Regions from separate parts of the Homo sapiens genome. Here region 2 is linked to region 1. A link means that fine-mapping ties the variant in region 1 to the expression of a gene that starts in the linked region. Tissue or cell type: aorta. Region 1 holds a variant in brackets; the other region holds the start of a gene. All regions are shown on one strand. Distances are from middle to middle.

What was found. PIP is the estimated chance that this variant, and not a neighbour inherited with it, causes the effect.
Region 2: ADAM12 starts here. The variant in region 1 is fine-mapped to the expression of ADAM12 in aorta (GTEx, PIP above 0.99).

The regions. Positions count from the first base shown.
Region 1 is chr10:126,046,515-126,054,617 of GRCh38, reverse strand. It overlaps ADAM12 (ADAM metallopeptidase domain 12), which reads left to right. Exons shown (of 23, transcript NM_001288973.2): 15 at 4,949-5,057; 16 at 5,167-5,365. Among named protein-coding and RNA genes, the nearest start is that of FANK1-AS1, 77 kb to the right of the region's middle. RefSeq lists an enhancer at 4,820-5,320. The variant C/T (reference allele first, on the strand shown) is at 4,269.
Region 2 is chr10:126,384,690-126,392,792 of GRCh38, reverse strand. ADAM12 (ADAM metallopeptidase domain 12) reads left to right here and starts at 4,316. Exons shown (of 23, transcript NM_001288973.2): 1 at 4,316-4,735. The coding sequence starts at 4,648.

The DNA of each region.
Region 1 (8,103 bases):
CTCTGAAGCATGGTTACTGAGTAGATCAGTCAGACAGGAGGGGGCAATCTAAAAAGGCTGAAGACTGATAGGCATTAGGTATTTTTCTTAGACCCCATACATGCCCAGCTATAAAACAAGGCTTCCCCCTGAAAGTAGCCAGCAAAAAGAATCGCTAACCACTGACCTGTCACTCTCTCAGCCACACCTTTTGGATGTCGCAGAGCAGGTGGGAAGGCGCTTTGGCGCTCATCATCCTGCATCCACGCAGGTTCATCAAGGCTGCCTGACAAAATCAGGTTTAAAAAAAGGCAGGTGCATCTATCACATGCTTAAATATTATTCTTCGGCTGTGACTTCATCCCATTTTGGTTATTCTGGTAAAAGAGCTTTTAAGGGTTCACTTTCATAAGCAATAGAGTGGGTGGTTCAGTTGTGGAGGTTATGAATATACACCCACTGGGCTAATAGAGAAAGTGCTCACTTTCTCTATTAAAAAGTGTTGGAAGAGTGGGTACTTGAACCTAGAAACAAGATTTCCAGTGATAACATAACAGAAGAAAAAATGTCAGCATCTTGAGAAAGCCGGAAGTGCAGGGAATGTGCCATGGAAAGCAAGAAGACTGAGACCAGGCCAGGTACGGTGGCTCACGCCTGTAATCCCAGCATTTTGGGAGGCTGAGGTGGGTGAATCACCTGAGGTCAGGAGTTCGAGACCACCCTGGCCAACATGGTGAAACCCCATCTCTACTAAAAATACAAAATATTAGCCAGTCGTGGTGGTGGGCACCTGTAATTCCAGCTAAATGAGAGGCTGAGGCAGGAGAATAGCTTGAACCCGGGAGGCAGAGGTTGCAGTGAGCCGAGATCACACCATTGCACTCGAGCCTGGGCAACAAGAGCGAAACTCTCTCTCAAAAAAAATAAAAAGACTGAGACCAAAGGAAACGTCATCTCAGTAAAATTGTTCCACGGTGTGGGAGAGGTTTTTTTTTTAAGACAATCTAAATTAAAATGTGATTCTTTTAACTGTTTCTCATTAAGTTAATTGACAGCATATTATAAGATGATGCTTGACTGTGTCATCTGTGTTGGTAAAAATTCACATATTCGAATTGGCCACAAGCCTTTCTGAGGGTTTGTCTTTGGGAGAATGGCGGTGCTCCTGAAATGCCAGGTGGCCTTCTGCTGGGGCGTGTACCATGCTTCTGCGTTATTGGTAAACAAGGCATTGCATCTTACACACACCTGGTTTTCTGAGCTGTGCTGCTCCACCAGCATTTGGGGCATTACAATCATAAGCACACCCTGTATTAGTCTGTTCTCACACTGCTATAAATAAATAAATACCTGAGACTGGGTAATTTATAAAGAAAAAAGGTTTAATTGGTTCTTGGTTCTGCAGGCTTTACAGGAAGCAGAGTAGCTTCTGCTTCTGGGGAGGCCTCAGAAAGCTTCCAATCATGGCAGAAGGTGAAGGAGAAGCAGGCACATCACGCGGCCGGAGCAGGAGCAAGAGAGAGAAGGAAAAGGGAGGTGCCACACACTTTTAAACGACCAGATCTCAACTCACTATCCCAAGAATAGCACCAAGGTGATGGTGCTAAACCATTCAAGAGAAACTGCCCCCATGATCCAATCGCCTCCTACCAGGTCCTACCTCCAACATTGGGAATTATAATTCTACATGAGACTTGGTGGGGACACAGATCCAAACCACGTCACACTCTGACCCAGAAGGCTCAGTGTGTTTCAGCTTTGGATTCCCAAGTAGAGATCCAGTGTTTTCACTTCCAGAATGCTTTTATACTTGATTACACACTGTTTCCATGCCTTTGCTTGACTTCCTATCATAACGATAGCCCTTTATCTGGTATTCACGTATCAAGCTTCCCCTTTGCTTTGCCAGTACATTTGCAGCGTCTTCAATCCCTGTTGAGGTTGGTCTCTTTCTCGTCCTCTCTCTCTCCCCCTTCCTCTCTTTGTTTTTATCCTTCTGTACTCCCCAGTCCAACCTTGTCCAACTCTCCTCCCAGGCTGCTGTTGAGCTGTTTGTAAGCTCACGTGTCTGAAACTGCCCAAAGTCTCTTTAGAGCTCCCTATAAGGAAAACAAATGTATCAACTGACATACTTGAATTGTGTCATGGTATATGTATTTTTTAAGTGGTCACAATTCCCAAGAAAGAAATTACTTTATAATAAAGGTAGCAGAATCTAGGACATCAGAATAGCATTGCGTGCAATGGCACAGTGATGTCAACTCCACCCACCCATTTCCTAGGAGCTAAGCAGTCACTAGGAGCTGCTTGTATTTCCGAGTCCTAGCCTTATGAAGTAGGGAAAGAAGCAACAAAGCCATTTCCTGCCCCATTTTCTTAGCCCTTCCACAGGCAGCTGCAGCAGCACACCCCACATCCACTGAACCTGTTGTTGCTTGGGCTGCAGGGCCAGGTCTTAATCTGCTCTCTACACCTGAGACCCAGTGCAGGGTCCAGCACCTGTGAGGATGGAGCACAGGAGGGAACAGCCCAGAAGCCTGGCTTCACCCTTAGATGATCCTGCCTTCGTTACCTATGTGAATCTGAGAAATATATTTAACCTCTGATGTGCTAATTTTCTTGTCCATAAAATGGAATAATGAGACCTACCTTGTAGGATTAAATGGTAGGATTCAGCTCATGATGTCTTCTCTAAGAGGTCTTCCTTGACCAGCCTGCCTTTAAAAGCAACAGTCCCCTGAACCCTCCTACTCTGTTTCTACCTTCATAGCATTCCCTAACACTGGGCTTTAGAGGAACATAATCATTTGGGTCTTTTTTCTGTGTCTCCTTGCAATTTTCAAGCAAGCAGGAGGTTTGTCCAGTTTGGTCCCTCTTATACTCCCAATGTCTGGAAGATAGTAGGTGCTGAATAAATACATGTGTCTGATTGAAGCCTGCAACATGATGGCTGGCTGGCTGGCTGGCTGGATGGATGGGTGGCCGGCTGGCTGGCTGGATGGATGGACGGGTGGCTGGCTGGATGGATGGACAGGTGGCTGGCTGGCTGGATGGATGGATGGATGGATGGATGGATGGATGGATGGATGGATGGATGGATGGGTGGCTGGCTGGCTGGATGGATGGATGGATGGACGGGTGGATGGACGGGTGGCTGGCTGGACGGATGGATGGACGGGTGGCTGGGTGGCTGGCTGGATGGACGAGTGGATGGATGGATGAATGGATAGATGGGTATATAAATGGATGATGGAAGGAAGTAGGAAGGGAAGGAGGGAGGAAAAAGAGGGAAAGAAGGATGGTTGGGAGGGAGATAGAGTTAGGCAAGCAACAAATACATAGGGTGTGTGCAAAAACACAAACAATTGTTGAATTGTTACTATTCTAGATGCCAGTTTTTCCAAACTGCTTTGATCAATCAGATCCCAGTACTTTGATCAAAAGTGCTGCCAAACAGGATTAAATTAAGCACAAAGTGCAGGTTCCACACTGAGGCTCTCCCTCCCCATCCTTCCCTGCTCTGACAGATAGACGAAAGAGAAAAAGAAGGCAGAATGCGGACAAATCAGGTCCCTAATAGGAGCTGAGTGTGTCGGTGGTGTCATCCTACTGTGAGCAAGGCAGATGTGGAACAGATGGAAGGAAAGGGCATGTGATGTGAGGAGCTAGGGACCTCATCTTTCTCCATGACAGAGAATTGTGTCCAGTCTGGGCTAATGCCCCTGAAAAAAGAGATTGCAGAGGCTTCTCTAACATGGCTTATAAAAGAAATGAGAAAAGGAGAGGTGCAAGGCTGGCTCATTGCAGAGATTGGAGCGCTGAGCACACTGTTCACATCAAATGATGGCAAGGTGGTGTGGCACGTGTGTGTTGAATGAGATGATCATGTCTGCTAGTAGCTGATGAGAAGGGATCAGGTGCAGGCTAACGAAGGGGGATGTTTTTAGTAAGAAGAACATCTTCTGTTCCCTGGGACGAGGTATCTTAAATAAATCCGTTGTCACCTTGGAAAGCAAAGCCTCCCCAGGGTGGAGAGCAGAGAAGGGCAGGAGTCAGAGTGAGGCTCTGGAGTGTCGGCATCCTGGCCATCAGAAGCGATGTGAGATAAAGTGCCAAACAGGACACCAATCAGGGAGAGAAAAGGGACCACGCCGCAGGGCATGGTTTGTTCTAAAGAATGTGGCATGTTTTCTTGACTTGCTCAATAGTCTTCAACAGACATCACTATGTCCAGGATTCAGGAGTCCTCCAGAACTTTGGCTGCAAATGCTGATTATATGTGCTCTCTC[C/T]GTGGCTGGAAGATGTGCTAAAAATGGCCATTTCTGAGCTCTCTGGCTGCCATGACCCTCTTTGCTGGGAACCGTCATGTTGTACATAGGGATTACCAGGGTTTATGACTCCATGGCCTCTGAGAGAAATCTCTGCCTTGCAAATAAAATAGAAGGTATTAAAAGAAGGTAGTACTTTCTCTTATAGGGAGCTTTATGGGACTAAAAATATCATAGAAGATATCTTCATTGCTCCTTTGGAGCCTGCCCTGGCTTGCATTTCCTCACCGGAATTGTGTGGGATGTTGTTAAAGAGAGCAAACTTCCCCTTCTCTGCAGCCAGCCAGCCAGCCAGCCAGCCAGCCAGCCAGCCAGCCAGCCACCTCCTTTCTGCCCTGGATCAGATCTCATTCCACAGCCAGGCCTCATTTCCTGAGAGGCCACACATGCCACAAGCCCAGAGAGCAGACCTAAGGAAGAGTAAGCATTGGAACATGTGCTCTGCCAGAGGCCGAGTCAAGAGAGGATGCGAGCTGCTGACACCCTAGGCTTCCCCTGGCCAGCTCCCACCATGAGTCGGGACAGACACTGGGTGTGATTGCTTTGAGCACGTCTCCCCGTAACCATTTGAGAGGCCTACAGCCATGAAAAAAAAAAAATCACCTGCAGGAGATGAAAATGCAGTTCTGCTTCTGTTTCAGGTGCTAAACCTGCCCCTGGGATCTGCTTTGAGAGAGTCAATTCTGCAGGTGATCCTTATGGCAACTGTGGCAAAGTCTCGAAGAGTTCCTTTGCCAAATGCGAGATGAGGTATGGAATCCAGACATCCTGGCAAAGTCTTTGCTCTGACCTTCCCACATTGCATAGGGTTGGTTCCAAATGGTTTCTCCTTGGGAATTGTTTGTTCTTACCCTTCCAGAGATGCTAAATGTGGAAAAATCCAGTGTCAAGGAGGTGCCAGCCGGCCAGTCATTGGTACCAATGCCGTTTCCATAGAAACAAACATCCCCCTGCAGCAAGGAGGCCGGATTCTGTGCCGGGGGACCCACGTGTACTTGGGCGATGACATGCCGGACCCAGGGCTTGTGCTTGCAGGCACAAAGTGTGCAGATGGAAAAGTAAGACCCAAATGTTTGCTTGGATCATAAATGTAAGTCTGGAACAGGGCCCATTGAAAAACAGCAAGAACTGGGTTACAAGGTTTGTTGGTTTTCCTAAATCTACTTCTTCTCAGATGCACCTAGAAGAAAAAGTCAATAAATCCTAGATCCTGGTCTGACTATTAAAATGCAGATTGGGGAAAAATCAAGCCTGTCTTCTTAGGCCTTGAGTGTTAATAAGTCATTTCTACACTCCAGGTGGCATGAGGACTTCTAGCCAGGAAATTACTTTGGAAAGAAATACAATCGCATATTCTATTGGTTTTGGATATGTGGCTTGGTTTTTAGCACAGAGTTCTTGGGGGCTTGTCCTCACCTGAACAGAATGGGAAATCAGATGTATTTTTAGAACCCTGTAGAGAGAAGAATAGGAGAGGGAAAGGAGTGGAAGAAACTCAAAACCAGAGGGGAGTCCTTTCAGAGAACAGGGAGAAAGATACATGGAGATATTTTGAGGTTTAGAAATAAAGTCAAACTTTTTTTTTTTTTGGAAGAAAAAAAGAATTTGAGATTTTCATGCTCTGCCATACTGATTTTTTTTTTTTCACCAAACTTTCTCATCAGACTAAATGACAGCAAGCGAATACAATGTTTTAAGAAAAGGATGAAACAACCCCCAAATGCTTCTTAGGACTCCATTTTCAACATGGTCTTGAAATCACTCACTAACATGAGGTCACACAGGCAAGAAAAGACAGAGGCAGAGACAGAATCCTGAGGACAGGTGTTGCCTCCACTCTCCTGTCTTTGGCCCCACACACCCTGAGCCACAAATCCTTTTTCCTTGAGAAATAGGATCGTACATGAATCTTCTTATACATTCTGAATGTCTCCTTACCCACATTTGCTCATATTCAGGCCTTGACATTAAAATGACATCTGATATTTTTAGGCTCAAATCATATTTTGTCTTTTAACTTTTAGGTTCAGGGGTACATGTGCAGGTTTGTTATACAGGTAAACTTGTGTCATGGGGGCTTGTGGTACAGATTATTTTGTCACTCAGATACTAAGCCTAGTACCCATTAGTTATTCTTCCTGATCCTCTCCCTCATTCACCCTCTACTCTCTGATAGGCCCAGTGTGTTTTGTTCCCCTGTATGTGCCTATGTGTTCTCATCATTTAGCTCCTACTTATAAGTGAGAACATGTGGTAGTTGGTTTTCTGTTCCTGAATTAATTTGCTTATGAAAACAGCCTCCAGTTCCATCCATGTTCCTGCAAAGGACATGATCTCATTCTTTTTTATGGCTGCATAGTATTCCATGGTGTATATGTACCACATTTTCTTTATCCAGTCTATCATTGATGGACGTTTAGTTTGAGTCCATGTCTTTGCTATTGTGAGTAGTGCTGCAATGAACATATGAGTGCATGTGTCTTTATGATAGAATGATTTATATTTCTTTGGGTATTACCCAGTAGTGGGTTGGCTGGGTCAAATGGTAATTTCTGTTTTAGGCCTTTGAGGAACGACTGCACTGTTTTCCACAATGGTTGAACTAATTTACACTCCACCAGCAGTATATAAGTGTTCCTTTTTCTCCACAACCTTGCCAGCATCTGTTGTTTTTTGACTTTTTAATAACAGCCATTCTGACTGACACCTTTTTTTTAAACTGTAGCCTGAACAGCCAGGGCCAGGTGCATCTGGACATTCCAATTCCAAGGGCTCAATTTATCATCAAATTTGTTTTCCACGTTCAAGATGAAATGTGCTTTGATCTCAGAACCTTGGTTCTCTGAGGGCTCAGGGATCCGCAGTGATTCCCATGAGGGTCCTGCTGTGTTCACTGTAATCCAGGACAGGTTCTTTTATCAGCTGGAATGTGACCATCCCCTTGGCCAGGATTCGCACCCACCGAGTGGGAATCCCTCAGTGCTGCTTGGGCCAGCGCTTCTCCCAAAGGCTATGCCTCTTGCCCTTATATGAGCTGTTGGGGTCGGATGGTGACCTCCTCAATAGGAAGGTTCTACTTGATTAAAAATTCTTCTGCCATTTGAACGTTAGACTCTTTTTCCTTTGACTCCACGGATTTGTAAAATCTTATAGGAGATAAAGGGCTGCATCCCTTGAGTCTGGAGTATATTATGCACATTTGAAATGAGGCTGAGTTCTTTCAGCCAGCCCAGTATCACTTAGGAAATGCCTACCACTACAACAGCTTGATAAATTCAAGGAGCCGTCTGTTTTCCTCTGCTGAGCCTCGTTGCTGATGGTTTATGTCATTGATGATACTACTTGTCAGTCAGTATCTGGAAAAAGTTCCCATATTTCAACCTCTCCCTTAAAAGACTCTTCAACCCTGGATTCTTGGAGTCTCCATCTATGTCTATCCAGGCCCTGGGATAAGGAGTAATCTGTCTCGCCCTCCCCTATATCTTTTTTTTTTTTTTTTTTTTTTTTTTGAGACGGAATCTCTCTCTGTCGCCAGACTGGAGTGCAGTAGCATGATCTCGGCTCACTGCAACCTCCAACTCCCTGGTTCAAGCGATTCTCCTGCCTCGGCCTCCCAAGAAGCTGGAATTACAGGCACGTGCCACCACACCCAGCTAATTTTTGTATTTTCAGTAGAGACAGGGTTTCACCATGTTTTCCAGGAGAGTCTCGATCTCCTGACCTCGTGTTCTGCCTGCCTCGGCCTCCCAAAGTGCTGGTATTACAGGAGTGAGCAACCGTGCCCAACCTCGCCCTC
Region 2 (8,103 bases), 340 kb before region 1:
ATGTTTGTTTTTGAGATTCCCCTTTTCCTTTCGCTGTGTGCTGGCTTTGCACTCAGCCTGCCCCCGCTGATGGCGGGAGAGATAAGCACCTGGTCTAGGAGGCTGTCTCAGCAGCTGCTGCTGCTCCAGGAGGTGTCTGTTTCTCTTAGTACTGTCAGTCACTTGGGGTACGTAAAATGGAATCTGGGGGTGTGTAGGGAGGGGCATAATAAGTTTCCCATCACAGTACAGTCATGAGTCACCAAATGACATTTTGGTCAATCACGTGGTACGCACTTGAGCACTTGTAAGGATGCTCCCATAAAATTATAATGGAGCTTCTCTATCCGGGTGTACCATTTTTTAAAATCTTTTCCACTGTATTTTTACTGTACCTTTCTGCCTTTTTGCTGTACCATTCCCTACAGTATTCAGTGGAGTCATGTGCCATACAGGTTCGTAGCCTAGGAGCAACAGGTTATACCATAAAACCTAGATGTGTAGTAGGCGGTACCACCTAGATGTGTGAGTACACTCTGTGATGTTCACACAGCGACAAAACTGCCTAATGATGCATTTCTTAGAATGTATCTTTGTTAAGTGAAGTATGACTGTCACTTGGTTGGAGAAGTTGACTGGTCAGTGGGTAGGTGACATAGATGAATATAGATGGGGTGACCTTTCCTGTCTCTTGTGACACAGCGCATCCCCGAGTTCCTTGTCCCCAGCCCCAGGAGCATTCTTTCTTTGGCGTTTAGTGCTACTTAAGTGCTAATTCTGTGCAATAATGAAAGCATCAGAGACAAGAGGGTTTAATCTGCCCAGAAGAGGTTCACTGGGGGCAGGTTTCTGAGGAGGTGAAGGCATGGATTCTTGAAGTGAGAGATCTAGGAAAAGAAAAATGGACTACATGTTATTATAATACGCCGAGAGGAGCAGGAGTTTTCATCTCTCCAAGAGATAGAATAAAAATGATTTCCAAGAATCTTAATCTTGGGGTGATCACATTTGTTTACGTTTGGAGTAAGCCTTGGGAACTGTGCTTGGAGAGAGGAAAGCTGTTCTGCAAGCCTGTGTCTGAAGTTCTGTCAATAGGTCACTCTGCAAGGAGGCCGGCTCTTCACTTACTGCAGAAATTAGCAGTGGCTGCCTGTAAATTCCTGGCTTAGGAAAGTTTGTCTCCGTTTTTCATCTGCTTGTACTCAGAGCAGATTGAGCTTACATGAGCTTGGGTAAGAAATAAGTGCCCTGTTCGTTGTGAATGCCCAGGCTGTTAAACGAAAATAGCACACAGGAAACAGTATTGCAAAGGTCAATTCTTCCAGAAAGGAAGGGACAACCAGCCATCTATCTGAAATTTTCGTGTGTAGATCCTGGCCTCTGACCCCACACCATTACCTAACAATCCAGTATTGAATGTGATGTCGGCTTCCATTTCCTGTGAATGAGGAGGCAGAATTTCCATCCAAAGACAGACCATCTGCCAGACGCAGGATTTGCTCTTTGCCTTAGCTGGCTGTTATTGATGTCTATGAAGGCTTTGTGGAGACAGTGTCAGCCCAGGCCGCTTGCTTCACAGAGATGGTGAATTACAGGGTTGAAATCCAGAGCTTGCAGCCAGGATTTTATTTTTCTTCATTTTTCCTCTGCAATGGCTGTTTTCTTTCGTTCAGTCAGAAACAAATCAAGGACAGTCTTGGGGCACATTTAGTTCTTTGGAGGAAGCTTTGCAACATCCAGGTTTAAAAGAAATTGGACTTTTACAGTCAACATTAACAATTGAATATGAAAGAGCGAAAATAAATTGATCATTAAGAGAAAATGTATACAAGGCCCCCAGCCCAGTGCACAGCACATGTTAGGTCCATTGTGAATAAACCATTTAACCAGTCAGAAGGATCCGAGAGGCCAGTGGCTGGGCTCATCTGCAAGCAAATCTGGCCCTTTGAGCTGGAAGAAAACAATTTTTAATTCTCTTGCGTCGATGTGTCTGAAGTTCTATGGGCCACAAGTATCAGGATCACCTAAGTACTTGCTAAAACTTGTCCTTCCCAGACCTTTCTAATGAGAATCTCCAGTGCAAACGCCAGAGGAATTGAATTCTTAACAGACATCCCAGGGATCAGGTGGGTTGGGAGACATTGCATTATTTCACCTGGTGCTCACAACCACCTGGGAGGTTTGTATTTTACCTTCACTTAACAGCTGCTAAAACTGAAGGTTGGAACTCAGCCTTAAAGAAACAGGCTTTATCTTTAACAGATCTGAGGTTGGGCTCTGACCTACTTCACTGTGTGGTGGTGGGAAAGCTACATCTCTATGCTGCAGTTTCCTCATCTGTATATTCAGGACTTAAAAAATGAAATAATGCAGGTGAAAGACGTTAGCACAATACTCCGATTATACGAGGTATGTAATGAATTATGAAGTAGTAAATAGTCTGTTTTCGTGCTGCTGATAAAGACATACACAAGACTGGGTAAAATTATACAGGAAAAACGTTTAATGGACCTACATTTCCACATGGCTAGGGCAGAAGACATGAAGGGGCAAGTCATGTCTTACATGGATGGTAGCAGGCAGAAAGTGAGAGAGAGCTTGTGGAGGGGAACTCCTCTTTTTAAAACCATCAGATCTTTTGAGACTTATCCACTACCATGAGAACAGCACAGGAAAGACCTGCCCCCATGATTCAATTACCTCCCACCAGGTCCCTCCCACAACACATGGGAATTCAAGATGAGATTTGGGTGGGGACACAGCCAAACCATATCAGTAAACAAGCCTAATCATTATTAACTAGGTTAAGTAACTAGCTCACACTGTCCAATAATGATGATTTATCAGTTTGATCAGAAAGAAAAGTCTTTGAAGGCAAGAGGCTTTCTCGTTTAGTTTCCCAAGTTCTAACATAGGGTTGCTCATGTAGATTGACTGAATGAATGAACAAAAGAAGTACACTGCAACGCTGGTTGGTAGTACGGTTAGATATGACACAGGGCTTGAACCAGGCCTGGTTTCCAGATCTGGTACTGAGATATGGCAGCATTGGGAAGGGGGCTGGAGAGCCTGTGCTTCCCACTAAGGTTTTTTAAAAAGAAAGTCCTGCACCTTGTTAGGAGGATCGACCTGGGTTTTGGGAACACTGCAAAACCTGCCGTGGGAGGGAACTCCTGAGAAAACTCCTCTGCAGTGGGAAGAGATGGTATGGAAGGCAGCTTCCTCAAATGCTGGATAACCGCCTCCTAGGAGTGGGTGCTCCGTCAGGAATCGGTGCGAGGTCGCAGGACCAGGATGGAATTTCTGCAGGTGGTCCTAGGTCTGAGCAGCACAGTAGAATCACCTGAGGCTTTGAAAACTATTGAGCTCCACGCATTGTGGGAAACTGAGTTAACTGGTGTCTGGGGCTGGCAATGTCTTTAACTCTTACTATTCTAATAAGTCCCCAAGGTTGGGAATCATGGTAACCCGCAGGGTGGGCATCAGCCATCCTCCATAGCTCCAGCCATTTCTGTCTGTGCGGGCCCCCTCGCTGCTGCTTTTCATGGTCTCCCTGAGGGCCGAGCGAGGCTGAAGAGGTGGGGTCAGCCCGGAACAAGGATGAGAAGGCAAGGCGCACCATTCTTTCATTGGTGTTTCTCCAAACACCCTGGGCTCCCCTGGCCTCACAGCCTGGAGAGTCTCATTCTGAAAGCGTAGGAGGGCGCCCGGGAATCTTTTTAACAAGCCAACCCAGGTGCTTCTTACAATCAGGAAAGTTTGGGGAACGTCACTGTACACCCTTTTCTGGGTCCAGGTCATGGAATGGAAACGTGAGCCAATCTATCAACGTAAAACCTAACACTGTTGATCAAAAGTAACGCCCAGGTGTCTTGTGCCTGCGAGTCCAAGCTTGTTTCTCGGGCGAGAGATGCCCCTTTGGGCGCTTAGGGCCGGGCGGGGTCGCGCGCCGGGCTGTGGGCCGCGGTGGAGACCTGACCCGCACTCCGAGGGTTCCCAGAGAGCCGGGGAGCGAGTAGCAGAGTCATCGTTTCCAGCTTCAGCCTGAAAAGCTGGACCGTGCCGCCGCATGTGCGCTTGGCAGCCGGGCGCCCCGGGCCCTGCGGCCACATCATCCTGGGGCGGGGACGTGTGCGCTCCGGGCGCCCGGACGCCACTGAGCCACGTCTGAGCCGCCCACCCTCGGGGGTGAGCGAGCCGCGGCTCGGGGCGGGACCCTGGCGGGGGGACCCGAGCGGTCTCTAGGACCCGCGGGACGCCGCCAACTGGCGGGGGTGCGGGGGAGACAATAATTTGTTCCGCGGTAATAAGAACGGTGACTGCTGGCCGTGGATCCATTTCACAGGCCTGCCTTCTCTCACTAACGCTCTTCCTAGTCCCCGGGCCAACTCGGACAGTTTGCTCATTTATTGCAACGGTCAAGGCTGGCTTGTGCCAGAACGGCGCGCGCGCGCGCACGCACGCACACACACGGGGGGAAACTTTTTTAAAAATGAAAGGCTAGAAGAGCTCAGCGGCGGCGCGGGCGCTGCGCGAGGGCTCCGGAGCTGACTCGCCGAGGCAGGAAATCCCTCCGGTCGCGACGCCCGGCCCCGGCTCGGCGCCCGCGTGGGATGGTGCAGCGCTCGCCGCCGGGCCCGAGAGCTGCTGCACTGAAGGCCGGCGACGATGGCAGCGCGCCCGCTGCCCGTGTCCCCCGCCCGCGCCCTCCTGCTCGCCCTGGCCGGTGCTCTGCTCGCGCCCTGCGAGGCCCGAGGTAAGTCGCCGAACTAGGGCGGCTCGCTGCCCGCCCCGCCGAGGGCACCGCACGCTGCGCCTGGGCGCGCCGAGGTCCAGGGCTGCCCCGAGGGGCGACGCGCCCCGGCGCATCTCCGGAGCCCCGGGGCTTGCGCTTCCAGCGCGGCGAGACCGACCCCCCCCCCCCAGGTGCCAATTCCTTGGGGAAGGGCGACACTTGGCCCGCAGCCCCACAGGAGCCAGTACCTGCCCCGGAGGGCACAGCCTCGGGACCGCTCCCCCGTCCTCACCCTCTTGGGTGACATTTGCAGATGTCTCTGTATCTTGACATTTACACGTGTCACTCGGGACGATGCGTGTCGGGTCCTCTTGCTGGCCCTATCCCGCAGTGAATATCCCCACCCCAGGCTCCGGGCCAGCCCTTCACCAGGTTTCCTTTCCAGCCCCGCCTCCCCCGCTAACACACTTAGGGGGGCGCGCAGCGGCCCCGCAGGTGAGGCAGCCCCCTCCTCCGCAGGTGTGCCTGCTGCTCTCCACAGCAGGCTCTATTTTCATAAACTGACTCTCTTACCTACTTCTTTAGTTTCCTCTCTGCCCCTCTTCCTGGCTTCCAGGTCACTCCCTAGCTGTCAGTCGCAGGCAAACTTTAGCGGAATTCTCCCTCCTTCCTCCACTCAGTTTCTCCGCCGTAAATAATCGCCCCCATCAACTTGGTGCACAGCGAGAACTTACTTAGTTTAACGTACTTAGTTTTACAGACTTAGGTTTTCCCGAGTTGTAGCCCCTTAAAATCGGGCACCTGTGGCTCCCGTTTGCACAGTGAGGACTCACCCAGCAGGTGCCTTTTTAAAAATCCGGCAACTTCCCCGGGTCTCCGCCGCCGCCGCCTTCTTTCTGCCGCCCGGGGCGCTGTCGGTCCACCGATGAACGACTTCCCTTGGCCGCAAGCTCTCAAGTTCTGTGATTCTATATAACAGGCATTTATTTTTCAACAACTGGCCTAAATCACGAACCGTTACCACTTTATGATACGTTTTATTTTGCGATTGCCACTGCTGCCCTCCGCCCCCACCGCGTCTACTGTAATGTGGCTAAAACCCAGTTCTTGTTAAAAGCCACACTGCGAAGACCAATTCGGGGATAAATGATTAAATACAAAGATTGCACAAAGCAATGAGAAAGTCAAGAAAGAATCCTGCTGAGGGTTTAAAGAACTCTACGACCTGTAGTGAATTGTGCTTTGAAAGACTTTTAAACAAATTGGTCCTTTTGAATGTTTATTAAGAAAGAACTTTTTAAAAAACGGAAAGTGTCTCAAAGTGTGCCTGACATGGTCTTTAACTTGGCACGTGCTTTGTACACATAAAGAGAAGTCTACTGAGCAGGGACAAATTTTTTTTTTGGAAGAAAATGTTTATTAAATCCAGCTAATAATGGGAAATTATTTCTTGTGTGTGTGGGCGGGGGAGGACTTTTACTATTTTATGAGTTCAGCTTTGGTAGAGAGAGTGTTTCCTTAAGACAGATATGACCCAAAATAGAAAACCAGGGAGGCCTAAGCACTTTGAATGGGTTACCTATTGTGATATATTCCAGGATTCACTGCTTGTTTACCCTTAGATTCTCAGTATCAAGTCTTCAATCAATCAGTGCCCCAAATCATACCATTGAGGCCGTATAAAACGCCAAACATATAATGAAACATTTCTTTGCATTGGCAAGAGAAAAGGAGGAATTACTACCTGTTGAGTCTGAGCATATTCTGAGTTTCTCCCTAGCCTTGTCTGTACCCTGAGCCCTGGCACAGTTGCCTACTTGGTACTTTCTGGGGCAACTCGGCCTAACAAGTCCAAAACAGAACCCTAGATCCCAGACTCTCTAGTTGCAAATCATTCCCTCCCCAGCCTTCCTGAACCCAGTAACAACCTCCTCTGCCTTCTCCACATGCCTTGTGCTGACATGCAGGAAGTCATCCCTGTGTCCCTCTTTTTACTCCGTAAGCCACCAACCTCCTAAGTATATTCCCACCTACCCACTTCCTTACATCCCGAAGTGTGCCTTTCCCAGTCCAGGCCACATTATAGGAAAAATCTCTTCTGCAGAAGCCTCTTATCCCTCTTACCCAACGGGCCTACTGGCTTTTCACCTTATCCCTGCATGGTATATTTTCCTCCACAATAGAGCCAAAGTTATTATTTTCAAACATGAGTTAGAGCATTCAAGTTTCCTGTCTAAAACTCCCCAGTGGCTCTCTAGCACCCTTAGGAAAGAAAATCCAAACCTCAGCATGACCTAATTCCTGTTTTCCTTTCTGATCTCCTTTCTTACCATTCTCCCTTTGCTCACCCTACTCCAGACACACTGCCTTCTCTTCTTTTCAACTACCCAATATAGTAGTGCCATCATTAAAAAAAAATTCAATGTTTGCACTAAGAAGACTTTGCAAATACTTTTCACTGTTTTGCCGTGCAGTGTTTTATGGCATTTCATCCCTCTTGTAACTTTTTGCTTTTCCTAGAGTTAATGATTGCCTTGTCTTGATTTTTGTTTGCTTTATTTTCTGTGCACCAAGCTGTGATATTGTGATATAATAAGAAATATGTCTCTGCCCCTGGTTCCTGGCACAGAACTCCTAAAATCCTTGGAATCTCTGGGGTATTAAGAGTGTCTTTTGTATGCTAATGAGCTTGTTAAGGCATGATTAGAGTTGGGACTTTTAGTGCCACCTCCCTTGCAACCTCCAGGGAGGGGAGACGGATTGAAGGTTGACTTGATCGCCAATGGTGTAATTAATCATGGCTGTGTAATTAGGCCTCCATAAACCCCCCAAAGGACAAGGTTTGTAGAATTTCCAGATTGCTGAGCAAATCAAAGTTCCTGGAGGGTGGCGTATCTAGAGAGGACACAGAAGCTCTGTATCCCTTTCCACATTCTCTGCCCTTTGCATCTCTTCCAACTGTTTTTCATCTGTGTCCCTAATTACATCCTTCATTAATATAATAAACTGGTAAATATAAGCAAGTGTTTTCTGTGGTTCTGTGAGCTTACCTAGCAAATTAACTGAACCTGAGAAGGGGGTTGTGGACCCCCAACTTATAGCTAGTTGGTCAGAAGTATAGGTGTGACAACCTACTACTTGTGATTGGCATCTGACATTGGGGGGAAGTCTTGTGGGACTGAGCCCTTAACCTGTGTGATCTGATGCTTTCTCCAGGTAGATAGAGTCAGAATAGAGTTAAATTGTAGGACTCCCAGTTGATCTCTACTGAAGAACTGGTGGTTGGTGGGGAGAAACTCCCACACATTTGGGTGACCAGAGGTGAAACATTCGGTACTGAGAGTGAGAGTAGGGAGAATACTTGGTTTTTGGTTTTTCCCATCCCTTAC